Linked DNA regions of Homo sapiens. The protein of the gene in region 2 interacts with the protein of the main gene of each other region in a biochemical or structural test. Each region holds a gene or a part of one and is shown on either strand. Other genes may lie near its edges.

The links.
Region 1: of the proteins of ATM (region 2) and RBBP8, one has a biochemical effect on the other in vitro, tested with the Homo sapiens proteins (4 studies listed by BioGRID, with this or other methods).
Region 3: the proteins of ATM (region 2) and RPA1 form a complex in vitro, tested with the Homo sapiens proteins (3 studies listed by BioGRID, with this or other methods).

What each region holds. Positions count from the first base shown.
Region 1 is NC_000018.10:22,992,315-22,999,348, reverse strand, and holds part of RBBP8 (DNA endonuclease RBBP8), read right to left. Parts: intron 6,602-7,034; coding exon 5,710-6,601; intron 5,629-5,709; coding exon 5,502-5,628; intron 2,976-5,501; coding exon 2,887-2,975; intron 1,730-2,886; coding exon 1,615-1,729; intron 1-1,614. UniProt on the Homo sapiens protein: Endonuclease that cooperates with the MRE11-RAD50-NBN (MRN) complex in DNA-end resection, the first step of double-strand break (DSB) repair through the homologous recombination (HR) pathway.
Region 2 is NC_000011.10:108,218,877-108,226,077, forward strand, and holds the start of ATM (serine-protein kinase ATM), read left to right. Parts: upstream 1-4,190; 5' UTR 4,191-4,310; exon of another isoform or gene 4,311-5,260; intron 5,261-5,907; exon of another isoform or gene 5,908-6,698; intron 6,699-7,201. Other genes in the region: protein NPAT, read right to left, coding at 3,624-3,660.
Region 3 is NC_000017.11:1,895,992-1,900,603, forward strand, and holds the end of RPA1 (replication protein A 70 kDa DNA-binding subunit), read left to right. Parts: intron 1-1,079; coding exon 1,080-1,184; 3' UTR 1,185-4,091; downstream 4,092-4,612. UniProt on the Homo sapiens protein: As part of the heterotrimeric replication protein A complex (RPA/RP-A), binds and stabilizes single-stranded DNA intermediates that form during DNA replication or upon DNA stress.

The DNA of each region.
Region 1 (7,034 bases), on a different chromosome or scaffold from region 2:
TGCTGTTTCAGTTCCAGCCACCATCTGCCTACAACTGCATGAGACCCTGAAACAGAACTGACCAGCCAAGCCTTTCCTGAATTCCTGAGCCACAGGAACTATGAAGATAAGAAAATGGTATTGTTTGAATCCTCTGAGTTATTCAAGTGATTCATTCATTATGTAGCAATACTATCCATAGCACTTTATTAGCCAAAATTATCTCTATAATTTCCCCTCATTAGTCCAAGTGCTAATTTCTCTTTCACATGATACTTGCATCAAATAAATTTGAGAAACTATTGTCTTCTGAATAGATTTAAAGTGGTCATACTTTAGATTTTCTCTTTTCTACAAAAATGAGAAAAACATGATCAGAGGCTAGTATCAGGAACAAAATAATCTTAAAAGCAAAGTATCCTCTTAAGAAGAGTTATTTAGTGTCATACAAGCCATAAAATGGCAATAAACTACTGTGAAGGTTTTTTCTTTTAATAGGTATTGGCTTCTCTACCCAGGTAACCATCTGCTTCATCATATGGTTTGCTATTTGTCATTGAAGAACAAATAAGGCAAAGACTACTAAAGTTTTCTTTGATTTACTGCATTTAAGGCAGCAGTAGATAAGTAGATTCAAAAGAAGCCAGGGCAAGACTATTTTATTTTTTGCTCTGAGCAGGTAGACTATAGAAAATTCAGCAGAAGATAAGGAATGCACACCCAGCCTCAATGTATTCGGCTTCTAACAAATGATCACTGGGGAATGTCTCTGCTTTTAGCACTGCTTCCCCATGTGGCAGGCCCTCGCTCTTCAATACATAAGGATGATAAATGACAACTGTTCATAGTCTAGCTGTTCTCATGTCATGTGCCTCTACAGTTAGGAATGTTGCTAAGGTACTGCTAACCAAAATCCTCCTATTGTTCTCATCTCTTCCGGAAAATCAAGACTTTGGGTAAAGAATTAATAGTTTCTCACTACAAAGGGCTGTAGACCACTAATTTGGCCAAATTGCCTTATCAGTAGAGGTGGAATACAGCAGATTAACTCAGCATATACACTATCATTCTGAATGTTAACCTGTAAAACTATACTAAGACTTCTCGGTAGATTTCTCCTTTCTTTCCTTATCAAATTTCTTTAGAAAACGTTAATTCTAACACAGGACTCAAGACTTACTGTTATACCACTTATAAAAAATTGTCTACACCAGGGATCAGCAAACTTTTTCTTAAAGGGTCAGAAAATAACTATTTTAGGCTTGTGGGGCTATAAGGTCTCTGCATCAACTACTCAACTCTGCAGCTGTATGGAACAAACAGCGATGGGCAATACATAAAGAAATGAATAAGGCTGTGCTCTGGTAGAACTTTATTTACAAAACTGGTAGCTGGCTGTCATTTGCAAATCCCTGGAAGCCATATGAATCTTTTCTGAAATGAAATTAGTTTGGTTAAAGACTTTTTTTCTGACGCACTGAAACTGAGCTTTCCTAAGAGGAACATAAAGTTAACAGAGCAGGAAAAAACCTGCTTTATGGTGAAGAGGTCACTTGAGCTAATCAGTGCAATGGTACAACTACAAACTTCACACAACGTTATTAAAAAAAATAACAAAACAAAAACAGATCTTACTTGAACTTTTTTCTCCCTTCTGCTCTTGCTTCTTCATTTTTAAGAGAACGGTTTCACTAACCAATGTACAGTCCATGTCCACTGTCTCTCCTCCTAATTTTGACTGACTGCCATCCTAAATAAATATTTTAAAAATCAAAAATTTTAACAATTATTCCTTTATGGTCTTATATTTAATTTTTACAAAACATTTTGGTAAAATATACATAACATACATTTTACAACTTTTAAGCATTAAGCTATATTTGCTTTTATACTTTACGAACAGGTAAGGATTTAGGTTTTACTGCTTATAAAACATTTTAGCTTCAATATAATCAAGCCTAGGAAAAGAAGGACTGCTGCCAAGGAAAGGGAGAATTATTTACCACTAAACACCCCTGAACTTTTCCTGCCTTTATTTTCCAATTTGCCTTATAGTAATGAACATCAATGTACACTAAGAACACTTTCAAAAATTAAATTAAATTTCTTGATAGGCATATATTACTCAGCGTATGTTAAATACTTTGTTATTAATATGCTACCAAGTGAAAGAGAACTTCTGAAACTACACAGAAGCTAAATACAAGACAAAAAACTATTTCCACTATGAATTTTAACTTTTAAAAATAGTCAACTTGGAAAATGAATTTTATGGTACATTATTTTAAAGGTAATGAAGACATGATGAATTATTTTAATGAATGATAAAATTATATAAGATATGCAGCATTTTGCATTATTTTAATTTATGAGACAGGGTCTTGCTCTGGTTGCCTAGGCTGGATGTGCAGTGGTGTGATCATACCTCACTGCAGCCTCGAATTCCTGGGTTCAAGGTATCCTCCCAACCTCAGCCTCCCAAGTAGCTAGGACTACAGGTATGCACTGCCATGCCCAGCTAACTTTAAAATTTCCTATAGAGACAGGGCCTTGCTATATTGCCCAGGCTGGTCTCGAATTCCTGGCTTCAAGTGATTCTCTCTCTTCGACCTCCCAGAGTGTTGGGATTACAGGCATGAGCCACTGCGCCTGCCCACTGCATTCTTTTAAAAACTATATTAATATTTTTCAGTAAAGGCCTTTAAAGTCAGAAAGTATTACCCTTTAAAAAATACCATAAAGTTAGAAGAATAAGCATTTTTATTTCTTAATTTTCTGCATAAATACATGTAGGTTTTAAGACGTATCTGATTATCTTAAGGTGATACAGTGAGTCACGAGAGGAGGTTGACTAACAACTCATTGGAATAAAAGTCAAATGAGTTTTGGTTTTACTTTTTAACTTACCTTTGTATCTATTACAGTAACATCCATTTTATACTGAGAAAGGTCTGCTCCCGGATCTATACTCCACTGGATATTTTCAAAGGATACATCTTAGGTAAAGGGAAAGAGCATGCAATTAAAAAACTGATTTCAAAAATTCTCATCACTTTAAAATATTATGGGACCTAAAGAATAGAAAATTTTTGCAAATCATATGTCTGGTAAAGGACTTATATCTAAGATATATAAAGAACTCTCACAGCTCCATAATAAAAAGACAAATATCCCAATTAAAGATGGGCAAAGGATCTAAATAGACAGTTCTCCAAAGAAGATATACAAATTGCCAATAAACATGAAAGGATGCTCAACATCATCAGCAGTCAAGGAAATGCAAACCAAAACCACGAGATGGCAAAAATCAAAAAGCTATAACAAGTGCTAGTGAGGAGGTGGAGATACTGGGACCCTCACATACTGCTGGTGGGAATGTGAAATGGTGTAGCTGCTTTGGAAAACAGGCAGTCTTTCAAAAGGTAAAATGTAGAATTGGCATATGGCCCAACAATTCCACTCCTAGGTATAATCCAAGAAAAATGAAAACATACATCCACACAAAAACCTGTATACAAATGTTCATAGCAGCATTGTTCATAATAGCAAAAAAGTGACAACTTGAATGTCAGCTAATAAATACCTAAAATATGGTATACTTATGCAATAAAAAATTATCCAATAAAAAGAAATAAAATATTGATATATGCTGTAACACAGATAACTGAAAACATTATGCCAAGTGAAAGAAGTAACAAAAGATCATATATTAAACGATTCCATTTATATGAAAACTCCCAGAATAGGCAAATCTACAAAGAGAGAAAGTAGATTTAAGGTGCCTAGGACTGCAGAGGGTATATGGGGAAGGAAAGTGATGAAAATGTTGTAAACCTAGACTACAGTGATGGTTGTACAACTCTGTGGGTATACCAAACCACTGAATTGAACATTTTAATGGGTGATTTTTATGGTATGTGATTTATATTTCAATTAAAATTTTTTAAAATTAAAAACTATAACATTGATGGGGTTTTCAATATATGTAGATAAAATACACAGGAACTACATAAAGTGTAGTTACAGAACATGAAATAGTACATTAACTCCAAGTAGATTGTAAAAGGCTAAGTAGGTAGATACTGTAATCCCTAGAGCAACCATGAAAAAAATAAAAACAAAAAGCTCAAAAAAAATCATGAATGATAGTGAAAAAAATGTTTTCATATAGAGACTAAAACACTCACTGGAAAAACAACTAATGACTGTGCTTCAGGAAAAAGGGAAAATAAACCCAGAATAAAGGAATAACTTGCCAATGAAGAATACAAGAAAAAATACTGCACTTGAACTACAGAAATGTTTGGTGGCTGAAAAAAAAAATTACTTTTTTAAAGATAGCAGGCTGGGCGTGGGTGGTTCACACCTGTAATCCCAGCACTTTGGGAGGCCAAGGCAGGCAGATGGCTTGAGTCCAGTAGTTCGAGACCAACCTGGGCAACAAGGCGAAACCCAGTCACTTCAAAAAATAAAAAAATCAGCTGGGTGTGGTGGTGCATGCTTGTAGTCCCAGCTATCCAGGGGGCTGAGATGGGAGGATCCACCTGAGCCTGGGAGGTCAAGGCTGCAAGTGAGCCGTGATCATGCCACTGCACTCCAGTCTGGGTGACAGAGTAGGACCCTGTCTCAAATAATAATAATAATAATAATAAAATATAGCAAAATTATGAAAAGATGCCTATATATCTTAAGGCAAACAATTTTTTTTTTCTTTTTTTTTTTTGAGACGGAGTCTTGCTCTGTCACCCAGGCTGGAGTGCAGTGCAGTGGCACGATCTCGGCTCACTGCAAGCTCCACCTCCCGGGTTCACACCATTCTCCTGCCTCAGCCTCCCGAATAGCTGGGACTACAGGCGCCTGCCACCATGCCTGGCTTATTTTTTGTGTTTTTAGTAGAGATGGGGTTTCACCACGTTAGCCAGGATGGTCTCGATCTCCTGACATCGTGATCCACCAGCGTCGGCCTCCCAAAGTGCTGGGATTACAGGTGTGAGCCACCGTACCGGGCCAACAATGTTTTTAAAGGAGTTTAAAAACGTATATAAGTGGCCGGGCGCAGTGACTCACGCCTGTAATCCCAGCACTTTGGGAGGCCGACGCTGGTGGATCACGATGTCAGGAGATCTAGACCATCCTGGCTAATGTGGTGAAACCCCGTCTCTACTAAAAATACAAAAAAAAAAAATTAGCCGGGCATGGTGGGCGCCTATAGTCCCAGCTACTCGGGAGGCTGAGGCAGGAGAATGGTGTGAACCCGGGAGGCGGAGCTTGCAGTGAGCCGAGATCGCGCCACTGCACTCCAGCCTGGGCGACAGAGCGAGACTCCGTCTCAAAAAAAAAAAAAAAAAAAAAAAAGAACAGAAAAATCACCGGTAAAATGTGAGAATCGTCCTATAAATACAGACACCTGAAGGAAGAAATAAGTTTTTTTCCAAAACAATTCAATCTATTTAAAAAAGTAAATAATGACATTCAATCTGAAGTCATTAAAAAAGTGGAGATCCTGTTTATGGTGTACACACCTTGGTTGTTTTGTAGAGACTTTATTTTACCAGTTCTACATGGATTTAACTGAAGAACTGATGCAAGTTCACATCCTCCATGGTCTGACCTGGTTTGTATTTTTATTGGCTCATGAGAACCAGCACTCTAAAACAGAAATAATTGTTAGCTCTAAATGAAATCACAAGCAATCATTTTAATCAAAATCCTTGAACATTTAACACAAACCTTTATGTCATCTAAAACATTCTCAGTCTCCAAACTTTCACGTGGACGTAGAGGAATTTTAAAGACAGCATTTTCTTCTTTTATTTGTAATGATGGTTTATTGTCTGGAGAGCATTTATTCAAGGGCTGAAGGATGATGCATTCCTGTGAACAGGGCTCCCCTGGGGAATCTTTGGGCAACGTGCAGTTGCCATCTGAGGCCTTACGGCTTGAGGAAAAGCCCTTTGGAATGGTCTTCAAAGCCTCATAAAGAGTCACTTGCCTAAATTTGTTTTTAGAAGTCTCACTTCCTTGGCTTTTCTCTTGACGCTGAATAGCTGAAAATCGATCAGACAGATCCAGAGGTTTATCCATCACACAGTCTCCATTCATGGAAAACTGATTATCCATTGGAAAAGGGAAAGCATTTTCTTTATCAAAAGAAGCTTGGGGGCAGCTTACTTCATGTTCACTTTCTTCCTCAGTTTTCTTCCTTTTGGATGTTCGGCCTCCCAATGATTTCAGGGGCTCCAAATGTTTATCAGTGTTAGAATCTTTACCGTACTCAGTCCTATTCTGTTCACCTAGGGATTCACTTATATTTTTATTTATAAGTATCTGTTTATTAGATGACTGGATAATGATCTTGTTCACTTCAGACCCAAGACTGTGATGTGTGAAAAGGGCACTATCTTCAGATTTTGATCTAGTTTTTTCTAATCTAGATATACAAGTGTTGCTAAAAGGGAGTGTTTTCAGATGTTTTTTTTTCCCAGGCTGTAAAAGAGAAGGGGACAAACTTGTATTCAAATCTAAACCACTTTTGATACTAGAGGTAGCTCCAAATACAGGAGATGACACTCGAGTAGGTAATTCTTCTTGAGGAGGAGTCTTTGAAGTAGAATCTGAAAATCTAAATAAAGAGTGATAACAATTCTTTAATACAGAATTAATAGTAAGGTCTTATCTACCTCTTAGAAGCAAATGATTAACCAAAATTTAAGACAAGGTACAGCTTTTGGCTTCTCTTCATTTAGATGACAAAAGAGAAGGGGAAAAGCAGAGGAAAATGACATAGGAAGTATTTCTCAACACCATAATATTCATATTTTAAAAATTTTTCCTAAGTACTTTAAATAACTTTATTATACAAAAAATCATCTTTTGCCAGGCGCAGTGGCTCATGCCTGTAATCCCAGCACTTTGGGAGGCCAAGGTGGGCAGATCACTTGAGGCCAGAAGTTCGAGGCCAGCCTGGCTAACATGGTGAAACCCCATCTCTACTAAAAATACAAAAATTAGCCGGGTGTGGTGGCACACGCCAGTAATCCCAGCTACTCTGGTGG
Region 2 (7,201 bases):
AAGTTTTAGACAGCAATGAGTACATATATTATTAAATAAACAAAGGAGTGTCATAATCAGAGCCATACTTTTGCAAATGTTTTATTAAATATCTATGTTTTGGTGATATAAAGGTGAATAGAACCAGCAGCTCTTGACCTGTTAGGGGTGTGTCAGTTTTGGTCCTGTTTGACCTCAAACACGTTCTTGACCCTTCTGTCGCTCTCTACTGTATGACATAAAGCTTGACTCTATATAGGCAATGTTCCCCAAGCTCTTCTGTCGGCCTGCTACTGGCTGGGCTCAGTAAATAGGAAGCACTGGTGGGAGGCTGGAGGGCAGGAGGAAGCAGCCATATTTTTCCCCCATTCCCTTTCTGCCTCAGTAGAGTCTCCTCTAAGACTACCACTCCCTCATCAGACAAGTCTTCCACGTTCCGCAGTCAAACCAGCCTCTTGATTGCTTCCTCTCTCCTTATCCTTCTCATTAGCATAGTGGCTTCCTACTGTTGCTAACCACTGAGATGCCTTAGTTGTAAGCTGCTGGGCGTCTTAGCTTTTCTCTCACCAGTGTAAACGAATTCTCTCATTAAATCTTTCCATGTTAAATACTCAGAATGGTTTCTACTTTTTTTACTGCATGCTGTCTCATACAGAAGGTAACAAATCTATTCAAGAAAACCTTCACAGATGATAGTTTTGGGGACTCCCAGAACTCTTGAAGCTTGTCCATTCATCCATGACTAAGACTACTAATAAAACAAAAAACCAAGTAAGTTTCAAATTGGGAAGATGAAAAAGTTCCAGAAACTGATGGTAGTGATGGTTGCAGAAAAATGTCAATATAGTTAACACTACTGATCTGTACATTAAAAACAAACAACAACAACAACAACAACAACAACAAACTCATTGTTTTGGGCTTTAAGAACTATACATTTTTAAGTGTTGAATTTTGTTAGTATATTTTATCAAAAAAAAGTAAACACACATCTACAATGAGACATGATAAGGTTGTAACAGAAGTACAATGCTATGGCAACATTTAAGAAGTACTGACTGTACTTGCTGAATGAAGTTTCAGAGATCAGGCATGACCTGAACCTTGAATAGAAGTGTACTAGGAAGACAAAGAGAAGTAGAATACATACAAGAATTTTCAAAGAAACTTCAATTCGTTTGGCATGTCTGCAGCATAAAACAGATGTTAGGAAGTTGAGATCAAGTTGGAGAGGTAGGTAGGATCAGTTCCACAGAGCACCTTGAATAAATAGATAAAAACTGAACTGATGGCCCAGAGGCAACAAACACTTTGATGTATTCTGGCCCACACAACATTTTGTAAAATCCCAGCAAGGCAATAAGGGCTACTTAAGTGGAGTAGTGAGATGCAAAAGTCAGAGTGCAGTATCCTGAAGGATAAAAGGTAGGTGAAGAACAGCAACTAAGTGGAATTCATTGTTCTTTGAATAAATTTGACTTGTGAAAGGGTGACACAGAACATAAGACAGAATGTTCTGTTTAATGGGTGTCTAATGTCTAGTGGGGTCCAGAAAAGTGTTTTTTTGTGTGTATGTTTAAGAATTTAAAAAAAACCTAATTATCTGAACACTAAGGGGAGAAAACTTAACTTCTCTATGTTCAGCAATTGGCACAGTGTTTGGAACATACTAGGCACCCAAAGATTTGCTAGAAAAAAAACATTATGAAGGGACCAATAACAAGAGGAGCTGAAGATGGCGAGGGGGTACTGATAGGAAAAGAATCATGAGTAAATAATAAACCTCATATGAGAAAGATATACACGATATGTATCTATTTAAGATGTAAAATGATAAACGACAAAAGTAAGAGCATTAGGCATGGGGAGGCTTTTTTGTATTGTATACTCCTGCCCATCTGAAATTTTTAGTAAGAATAGAATTATCTCAACTTTCAGACTAAAAGGTATAGTGTGAAAGCTTCAGGGAGATTTGTAACAACAGTAAATAAAATGAATTGCGAGGACAACTGTCTGGGAAGCCATGACAGAAGTCCAAAAGAGAAGTAATGGCAGGCACATTGCGGGATTGGTGGCAGTGAAAATGGAATGTGAATGACAAAGATTTTTAAGATAAGAAAACCATGGCTGGCGTTTTTTGTCCATTAAATGAAAAGCAGGAAGTCAGCAGAGTAGCTGGTTTGTGGAGAAAGAATACTCACACATCGATGTGAATTATTTCAATTAGAAAATGATACTGCTTTCTTAGGGCTTTCTTAACTAGGGGTGATTCTGCCCTCCAGGGGACATACTAGCAATATCTAGAGACATTTTCACTGATCACAACTGGGTAAGGGTAGGGTGGGGAACGGGTGTCCTACTGTAATCTAGTGAATAGAAGCCAGGAATGCTGCTAAACATCCTACAATGTTTGAGCACAGGATAGCTCCCCACAATAAAGAATTATGAGGCCCAAAATGTTAACAGTACTGAGGCTGAGAAACCATGTTTAAGACTATAGTTACCGAAACTCAACTAGATTACCAAACTGCCAAAACTCAGAATTCTTAAGCAAAAGATTAATCAGACATTAACAAAACATTAAACTTGTCATTAAGTTTCTTCAAAAATGGATGGTGGAACCATTTCCGTTTAACGTTTCCTGCAAAATGTGCTTATCAAGAGCCCTGCGCAAATAACATTTTTGTGGACAGCGCTGGGCATTTAAAAGAGGCACAAGACAAATGGGTTTTCCGAACAATAAAATAATAGTAGTAATGGCTGTGAATACTATGGGAGGTTTCATCACAGATGCTTGCCATTTACTTTTAGGGACGTCGCATACGACGTCCGTAAATTACTGGCTCGGGTTTTGAGCTTTACCTGGCTCTCGTCCCCTGTAGTACAATCCTCTTTATTCTTTCAGGGGACAAACAACAACAAAACCCGTCTCTCACACAGACAATACACCCTGACAGACAAGTGACCCACAAACAATCCCTCCTCAAATGAAGGTAAAACTAGGGCTAGAAAACGTTCAACTAATTTAAGGCAATTAACCCTCTGAAATTTTTCGCTGATCAAAGGAACAGGAATTGCTGTTTTAAAATATGCAACTGGCATTTCACACCTCTACACTGGACGACGTATTGCGTGGAGGATGGAGAAGGAAGATCACCCCTACTCCCAAATTCGTAGTTATAAGGGCGGGTTATTAGAAGGGCGCCAGGAAGGTCTCTCTACAAAGATGGGGGGCCGGGGAACTCCCTATTTGCCCTATTTTGGTCCCAACACTGAACCAAGGAAATTGCGCCCAAGGTTGAAGCACACGCAATCCGTCCGTCATGCAGACAAATGCTCTTTCAGGGGTCCTAATTAAGTGTGGAGGCCTGACTTTCCTTCCGAATCCGCCCCAGGTGTTCCACCCCGAGCTTCCCCTCGGGCTTCCCCTCGCCACGCAGCCTCTGAAGAGAGGAGCATCTACATACAAAGAGGCTTAAACTGCCCAGAACCTCCGAATGACGAAGAATCACCGCCAGTCTCAACTCGTAAGCTGGGAGGCAAAACCCCAAAGCTTCCCTACCAAGGGAAAACCTTTGGCCTCAAAGGTCCTTCTGTCCAGCATAGCCGGGTCCAATAACCCTCCATCCCGCGTCCGCGCTTACCCAATACAAGCCGGGCTACGTCCGAGGGTAACAACATGATCAAAACCACAGCAGGAACCACAATAAGGAACAAGACTCAGGTTAAAGCAAACACAGCGACAGCTCCTGCGCCGCATCTCCTGGTTCCAGTGGCGGCACTGAACTCGCGGCAATTTGTCCCGCCTCTTTCGCTTCACGGCAGCCAATCGCTTCCGCCAGAGAAAGAAAGGCGCCGAAATGAAACCCGCCTCCGTTCGCCTTCGGAACTGTCGTCACTTCCGTCCTCAGACTTGGAGGGGCGGGGATGAGGAGGGCGGGGAGGACGACGAGGGCGAAGAGGGTGGGTGAGAGCCCCGGAGCCCGAGCCGAAGGGCGAGCCGCAAACGCTAAGTCGCTGGCCATTGGTGGACATGGCGCAGGCGCGTTTGCTCCGACGGGCCGAATGTTTTGGGGCAGTGTTTTGAGCGCGGAGACCGCGTGATACTGGATGCGCATGGGCATACCGTGCTCTGCGGCTGCTTGGCGTTGCTTCTTCCTCCAGAAGTGGGCGCTGGGCAGTCACGCAGGGTTTGAACCGGAAGCGGGAGTAGGTAGCTGCGTGGCTAACGGAGAAAAGAAGCCGTGGCCGCGGGAGGAGGCGAGAGGAGTCGGGATCTGCGCTGCAGCCACCGCCGCGGTTGATACTACTTTGACCTTCCGAGTGCAGTGGTAGGGGCGCGGAGGCAACGCAGCGGCTTCTGCGCTGGGAAATTCAGTCGTGTGCGACCCAGTCTGTCCTCTCCCCAGACCGCCAATCTCATGCACCCCTCCAGAGTGGCCCTTGACTCCTCCCTCTCCTCACTCCATCTTTCCTGGCCTCTCTCCGGGTGCTTAGCGGACTTGGCCAATAACCTCCTCCTTTTAAACGCCCTGAATTGAACCCTGCCTCCTGCGCATCCTCTTTTTGTGTCACCTTAGGGTTCAGATTTAACTACGCGACTTGACTAGTCATCTTTTGATCTCTCTCTCGTATTTAGTACTTTTAGTCAGCGAGCATTTATTGATATTTCAACTTCAGCCTCGCGGTTAAGAGCTTGGGCTCTGGAATCATACGGCTGGAATTGGAATTCTGTCAGTCGTGTGGCCGCTCTCTACTGTCTTGTGAAGATAAGTGAGATAATCTTGACCTGTGGTGAGCACTCGTGAGCGTTAGCTGCTGTATTTACCAGGTACAGATAAGACAACTACAGTGGATGATAATGTATGTGGTGATAGGGGAGTACTCTGATGGTAGAGGAGTGACTTTGGTTCTCTGCAAACTCAGCCTGAGACTATCAATTCAGTTTGTGGTGAGACCTCGCAGTGTTACCTTGGCAGATGGTAGAAGCCTTCCAGATGGAAGGAAAAATGCGTGTAAAGGCACAAAGTGTAGAAGGACCCTGAAGCTCCAGCGTGAGGCCTGGCATTGAATGAAATATATTTTGTGGGTTTTCAGCTGCTGAAGTCATAGGAATGGATGAGACCAAGAAAACAAAGCTGTTTTTGAGGTATGAGCGGAAGAAGAGATATCAGGAGACTTTCGAAACAGTCATAACGGAAGTTAATATGATCATTGCTAACATTTGCTGTGTTTCAGGCACTGTAAGCATGTATATGGGTCCTTAAAGGGACTCATAGAGGTAGGTACTAGTATTGTTTTTCCTTTTATCATTGAGAAACTGAGGTTTGAAGAGATTAGTGAACTTGCTCTAGATTATACAGTTTGTAAGTGGCTGAACCAGGATTTGAACTAATACAATCTGACTACAGAGGCCACACTCCTTAGCACTAGAAAAGAATGGCATGCCAAGGGCAGAGTTATTTCTAGGAAGATGGGATATAAGCGTCATTGTCAAGTTGTGCAAAGGGGTCAACTTGGTTGAGATCTAAAAAGGAACACTGAATTCGTCAATTCAGAGGCTCGTAGGAAGTAGGAAATCCTTATCTTTTCGTTTGAACCTTGAGTGGAACCTAGATATTCTGGATTAATGTATAAATGAAGTTCATCTTTATATGGTGACACTCATACTCTAGTTGACTACCTAATAGTTCCTCTGCCTTCTTTCAGTTCCGCCAACATACTGTGTTCTTTAACATTGTAGAACCCTTTGGCTATGCTAGTCTCCTTCCCTGAAGTGTTGGTCCTCTAGCCCTTTTTTTGATTGGCACCAGTTAGTTCAGATCTTGGCTTTATTATAAACTCCTCTGAGATATATGTTCCCTGACAGTTTATCTAAAATGATTCTCTCTACAGTTATTTTCTATTACTGTGTTTTTGTTTCCTCAGAGGCATACATCACAATTTGGAATTATGCATTGGTTTATCAATTTACTTGTTTATTGTCACCCTGCTGCCCAGATATGACTTCATGAGGGTAGGATTTGTATCTGTTTAGTTCATTATTTGTCTAGCTATAAGTAGTAAATATTGTTTGCATCTATCAGTGAATGAGCATCTTCTGTTTATGTAGATAATACTGAACTGTTTTGTTTTCTTCAAAGTAATCATTAAGCTGAAGGTAAGAAAAACAAGTTCAAGGAAGTCACACCATGGGGAAAAAAAAGTCAAGTTTAGGGCTGCCTCTTCCGGGAAGTGTCAAATCTTTAGTATATTTAGGAATAAAGGTGCCAAACCTTATGGTTCTTTGGATATTGCTAAGGTATTTTCATTGGTTAGATTACCAGTTTCATTTTCCTTATTGACTCAAGAGGGCTTTAAACTGAGATTGAAGAAGTAAGAAGATTCCTAGATAAAACCATAAGGAATGGAAAAACAAAAATGATAATACTTGTCCACAGGAAGTATATAATCAAATGAAAAGAACTCAAATAACAATCTGTAATCTATAGCAGAGTAAAGCGGAAGTTGTAATAGTGTTGGGGGATGGGGGAAGTCAGAAGAACCACCAGTGAATATAAAAGGAGAAGAGAATCAGAGCCATCTGCTAATAAAATGGGTAGTCAGCTCTTTTTGTTTTTTTTGTCTTGTTTTGTTTTGAGACAGTCTCGCTCTGTCGCCCATGCTGGAGTGCAATTGCGTGATCTCAGCTAACTGCACTTTCCGCCTCCTGGGTTCAAGTGAGTCTCCTACCTCAGTCTCCCCAGTAGCTAGGATTGCAGGCACATGCTACCACACCTGGTTAATTTTTGTATTTTTAGTAGAGACGGGGTTTCACGATGTTGGCCAGGCTGGCTGGTCTCGAACTCCTGACCTCGTGGAACGCCCACCTCGGCCTCCCAGAGTGCTGGGATTACAGGCATGAGCCACCACGCCTAGCCCCGGTAGTCAGCTCTTACTGAGAATATTCAAAGACAGGGCATTCATTTTGTAAGAGACATTCCTTCCTTCATAGGAAGATTGGACCTGGTCTTTTAGTTCCTCCCAATTTTGAGATTCTGTGAGATTGAATCGGGGCAGAGAAACATACTTAATCTTGAAAGATTAAGTAGAATTTAGATGGATGGATAGGAGAAGGACTTTCCCTACCTTTTTACTTCTTGAGATATAGTTATTTGTAGGTATAATATACATAAATATATGTATTTTTTCTCTGTTTACAGACATTCATAGTTTAATAAAA
Region 3 (4,612 bases), on a different chromosome or scaffold from region 2:
GTTATAATCAAACAGTATTGAGCATGGTCTGCCAGGTAACTGTTCTACATCCTTTACGTGGAACATCTCACTTGAGCCTAGTAACCCTATATGTAGAAACTGTGGTTACCCTATTTTGCCACTGAAGGAATTACATACAGAGAGACACGGGCATTCAGAGAACAAGTCACTTGCCTAAGTTGTATGCTAGCAAGTGGTCGAGCTAACGTCCAACCCAGGCAGCCTGACTTCAGAGCTTTGCTTTTGATCATGCTTACGAGTATCACGGGATTTAGTACCGACCAAGCACACAGCAGTGTGACAGCCCCGAGCTCGCCTGTGCAGCCTTCCTGGGTATCACTCCGTTCTGCCCGGAAAGGCACCATTCAGGCCGTGAGTGTAAACGTACGAGTGGGCAGGGGGAGTGGTAGAAACGCCCCTGCTGATTGCAGGGTTTACTCACGTATTTACCTTAACGCCCGTTCTTCTGCGACTACTATAAACATTAAATGAGATAGGGGATCAGATGTCACCGTGAAACAATGTCAGGGAGTGGGGTGGGGCTGGGGGGGATTTTTGGGGCCATTCAGCCCCATCGTGTCTGGACAGGGAAGGTGAAGTGAAGAGAGGCTGCCTCCCCAGAGCTGAGACAGGACAGACTCGGTCCTCTCCCTCTGCTGCAGGTGCTCTTCCTTTCACCACTCAGCTTTTCTTGAAATGAAAGTTTGAAAGTTTAGCTTTCAGAACTAGCTGTGTGGCTTTGTGCAAGTCACATGTCCTCTCTGGGCTGTATCCCCTGCAGTAGGGAGAATAAATGAAACTAGAGAAACCCTCTAAAGTCCATCTCACTAGGATTCTAGGCTTCTGGGTGTTTGGGAGCTTGGGTAAAGAATCAGAAGGGCCTGTGCTGGAGAAAGGACCTGTTCACTCGCCCAGCCCCAGACATTCAGGAGGAGGCTGTCACTCACTGGAATGACTGAACTCTGAACCCGTGCGTCTGTTCCCTCCCGCTGGGCTCACTGAAACCACTGAAGCAAAAGGGGTTTCACTGCTCCACACCACACTTTCACTGCTCACAAACTACTTCTCCCTTTTTGAAGGACGAGTCTCGAATTAAGGCCACTGTGATGGACGTGAAGCCCGTGGACTACAGAGAGTATGGCCGAAGGCTGGTCATGAGCATCAGGAGAAGTGCATTGATGTGAGAGGAGCAGTGCCAATCGGGCAGAAGTTTGCAAATAGGCAGAATGGAATCGATTTCCTCCCACCTCCGTGTGACGATCCCATGTTAGCTACACAGTGCAGAGGCTCTTGATGGTGGACTAAGCAATTTCCCCCCTCGTGCGCATCTCAGAACCCATCGGTAGGCAAAGGAAAATACGCTCAGGTGGTTGTGGTGTAGACTGTGTCAGGCCTACGGAGTCAGCCAGTGGCTAGCGCAAGACCAGTCACTCCCTCTGCCTTCAGGCTTCTGTCAATTTCATTATCATCAAGCAGGAATTATGTCGTAAGTCACTGACCCTAACTGCAGACCATGAAGTAAATTATGTAACTAGGTTTTTGCTTCTCCAGTGGTGACCACCCCCCCCCATCCCCGCTCACAACTTGGGTTCTTCTCAGCGGGGCGAGCTGAGAAGCGGTCATGAGCACCTGGGGATTTTAGTAAGTGTGTCTTCCTAGAATTCGAAGGCTCTCTCTTTCTAGAGGTGCTACATAGTTGGTAATGCTTGGAATGGCAATAGGGTAGAATGATTAATCAAAGGCATATCTTCTATATCTGAAGAGTATCCTTCCTTCAGGGTTTAATAGACTGAGTCAGATGGGTCTGATATTAATCAAAATTGTCTCTTCTGAGGACCGCTGATAAGCATTGACTTGCCGTCCCCTAAGGAAATCCGAGCGGCTACAAAGCGTTTCTTTACTTCTCACTTCAATTAATGCTGCGCTTCGCTTGGTGAGTGCGTACTTTTTCTACCTGTACACATTCCTGCATTCATGTATTTTGTTTTTTTTGACTAAAGCTATGTTACATGGAAAGGATTTTGAAGCCTTTTGTTTCCCTTGCTTTGTTTTAATAAACAGTATATTCTTTGGTTGTGAATCCTACTTTCTTTGAATGCAAAGAGTTCCTATAACTGGAAAGCAATTAATTAGCCTTCATAATAAATGTTCACTTGGGGGGGATGTTAACTCATTATAAACCCGAAGATTAGTCCAAGGCATGGAGATCCTTCTTCCTAGTGTTTGCAGCCCTGAAATGCATCTTTCAAAGCATGAAAACACTAAAAACAAAAAGCCATTTTGCCTGAGGATGCTGATGATCTGGCACTTGGGATTTTATTGATGTTTACGCAGCAGTCTAACACCAACCACGCTTTGAAATGTGTACAGACAGTGAGCTGGTAAGAAAACAGTAATTATGCTAGTGGGCCTTTCAGTCAGCAAAAGCATGCTCGCTCTGTGTGTTCCTAATCATATTAATTATCTATCCGGTGGCTGCAACACACCGCCTGCCATTGGCCGCACATCTCGCCGTCGTACCCCGGCAGTGCGGCGGTCACTCTGCAGCCAGAGGACCTGCTGTTCATCACTGCACATGCCGCCTGCGGAGGCTTTTGGATATGGGGAGTGATGGTGTCCTGTCTGTCTCCCCCCTCGGTGTCTGCCGTTGACATAGGGGCCAGCCAGCCCTAGACGGGATGACTTCCGTTCCTGAGGACAGACACAGAGGGACTCCTGCTCAGCCTCACTAATTGTTTAGACACATTCCTTCCTACCCTTCTCTAGTCTCAGGAGATGGTAACTGGGTCGCATTTCAGTCTCTGACTGAGGCCTCAGCCATTTTTACGGAAGTTCTTTTCTGTCTGACCTTGCTTATAAAGCATCGACGAGAAAATTACAGTCTTCAACCCTCTTCTGGATTGACAAATTGTGGCTGGGAAGTGGCGATCTAGCTTTCAGCCCAGTAACCAGTCTTTCATGCCTACTACTCCCAGCATTCCCTCCTCTCCCCACGTGTCTGTCCACACAGTGAAGAGGCCTGACCAGCCGTGGTACCAGGACAGGACGTGTCCAGGGAACGCTGACACCTGTCCTCGCGCCTTCTCAGTGGCCAGCGTGATGAAACCAGCACGTCTCCGTGGATGTGATTGGGAACCCAGGGGCAGTGCCAGGGGGAGGGCTCCCTCGAGGAGGCTGTTTCTAACAGATTTCCCCACTCAAAGATCAGATCACCAGCAGAGGAGCATCAGAAACTGGCTCCACTGTTGGGCTTTTCAGAGATTTTGGTCCCTGCGGGTTGCCTAAATAGATTCTGGCCCACAGTTTACCTCGAAAGGCTGTTGATGTTGTTCTGTTTCTCCTCTTTCACTTAGAGATCAATGTTGATTTTGCGTACACCATGACATCAGCGTTAGGCAATTAGGAGAAAAAAATCTAATCATTTCGCCTTTATTTCAAGTGGTTCTTGAATTCCCTCCAGTCTCATTGTGAAAGGGGCAGGGAAAAAAATAAAAGGGTAATAATCTGATTTCTGTCCATATTTCCAGTGTTTTATGCTTTCCATTAAAACCTTGCTAATCTCTCGCGTGCTGTTCCTTTTTTGAACTGCAGGGTCAAAAATGTTCCCCTCCCCCACTTCTGTTTCCTGAGTGGGCTGTCTTCAAAAAGTATAAATACTATTGATCGTGGTATTTAATACACTAATGAAACCCATGGTTATTGACTACATAATTAATATACTGTCCAAAAGTGAAGTTTGGCCGCCCAGTATGTAAAGGTTTATATTGACTCATGTTTCTTTGGCAATATGCCGCCCAAGGTTTTATTTATAGAGGATGAAACAGGTTGTTTGGTCTCCTTTTCTTCTTTTCACCTGTTAGAAGGCCACTATTCCCCTAGTAAACTGATTGTTTCCTTGTCTCAAAGGGAAGATTCCCCCCACTCCCCGGCCACCTTTTATGTGGTTTGTTAACTCTTAGTCTTATATCCACTCCGCTGGTAGAGTTCTGGCTTTTATAAACACCTTTGGAAGTCATCGGTTCCTCAAAAAGAGAGCATAGATGTTTAATTTTCACTTATTCAAAAAAACTGGTATTTTTGTTATTAAGACATTAAGTAAATGTTTAAGAAAAAAAAGGATAATTTGGACTATTGACTTTCTTATGCAAGTAATCATATTTGTTTGTTTGTTTGTTTATTTATTTTGAGACGGAGTCTTGCTCTGTCACCCAGGCTGGAGTGCAGTGGCACGATCTCAGCTCACTGCAACCTCCGCCTCCCAGGTTCAAGCGATTCTGCCTCAGCCTCCTGAGTAGCTGGGACTACAGGCATGTGCCACCATGCCTGGCTAATTTTCTGTATTTTTAGTAGAGACGGGGTTTCACCGTGTTAGCCAGGATGGTCTCGAACTCCTGACCTTGTGATCCACCTGCCTCGGCCTCCCAAAGTGCTGGGATTACAGGTGTGAGCCACCGCGCCCGGCCTCCATGTTTATTTTAGGAAAATAATCTACAGTTAAGAAAAACAAAATTGGCCTGGCACAGTGGCTCATGCCTATAATCCCAACACTTTGGGAGGCTGAGGCGGGCAAATCGCTTGAGCCAAGGAGTTCGAGACCAGCCTGGGTAACATA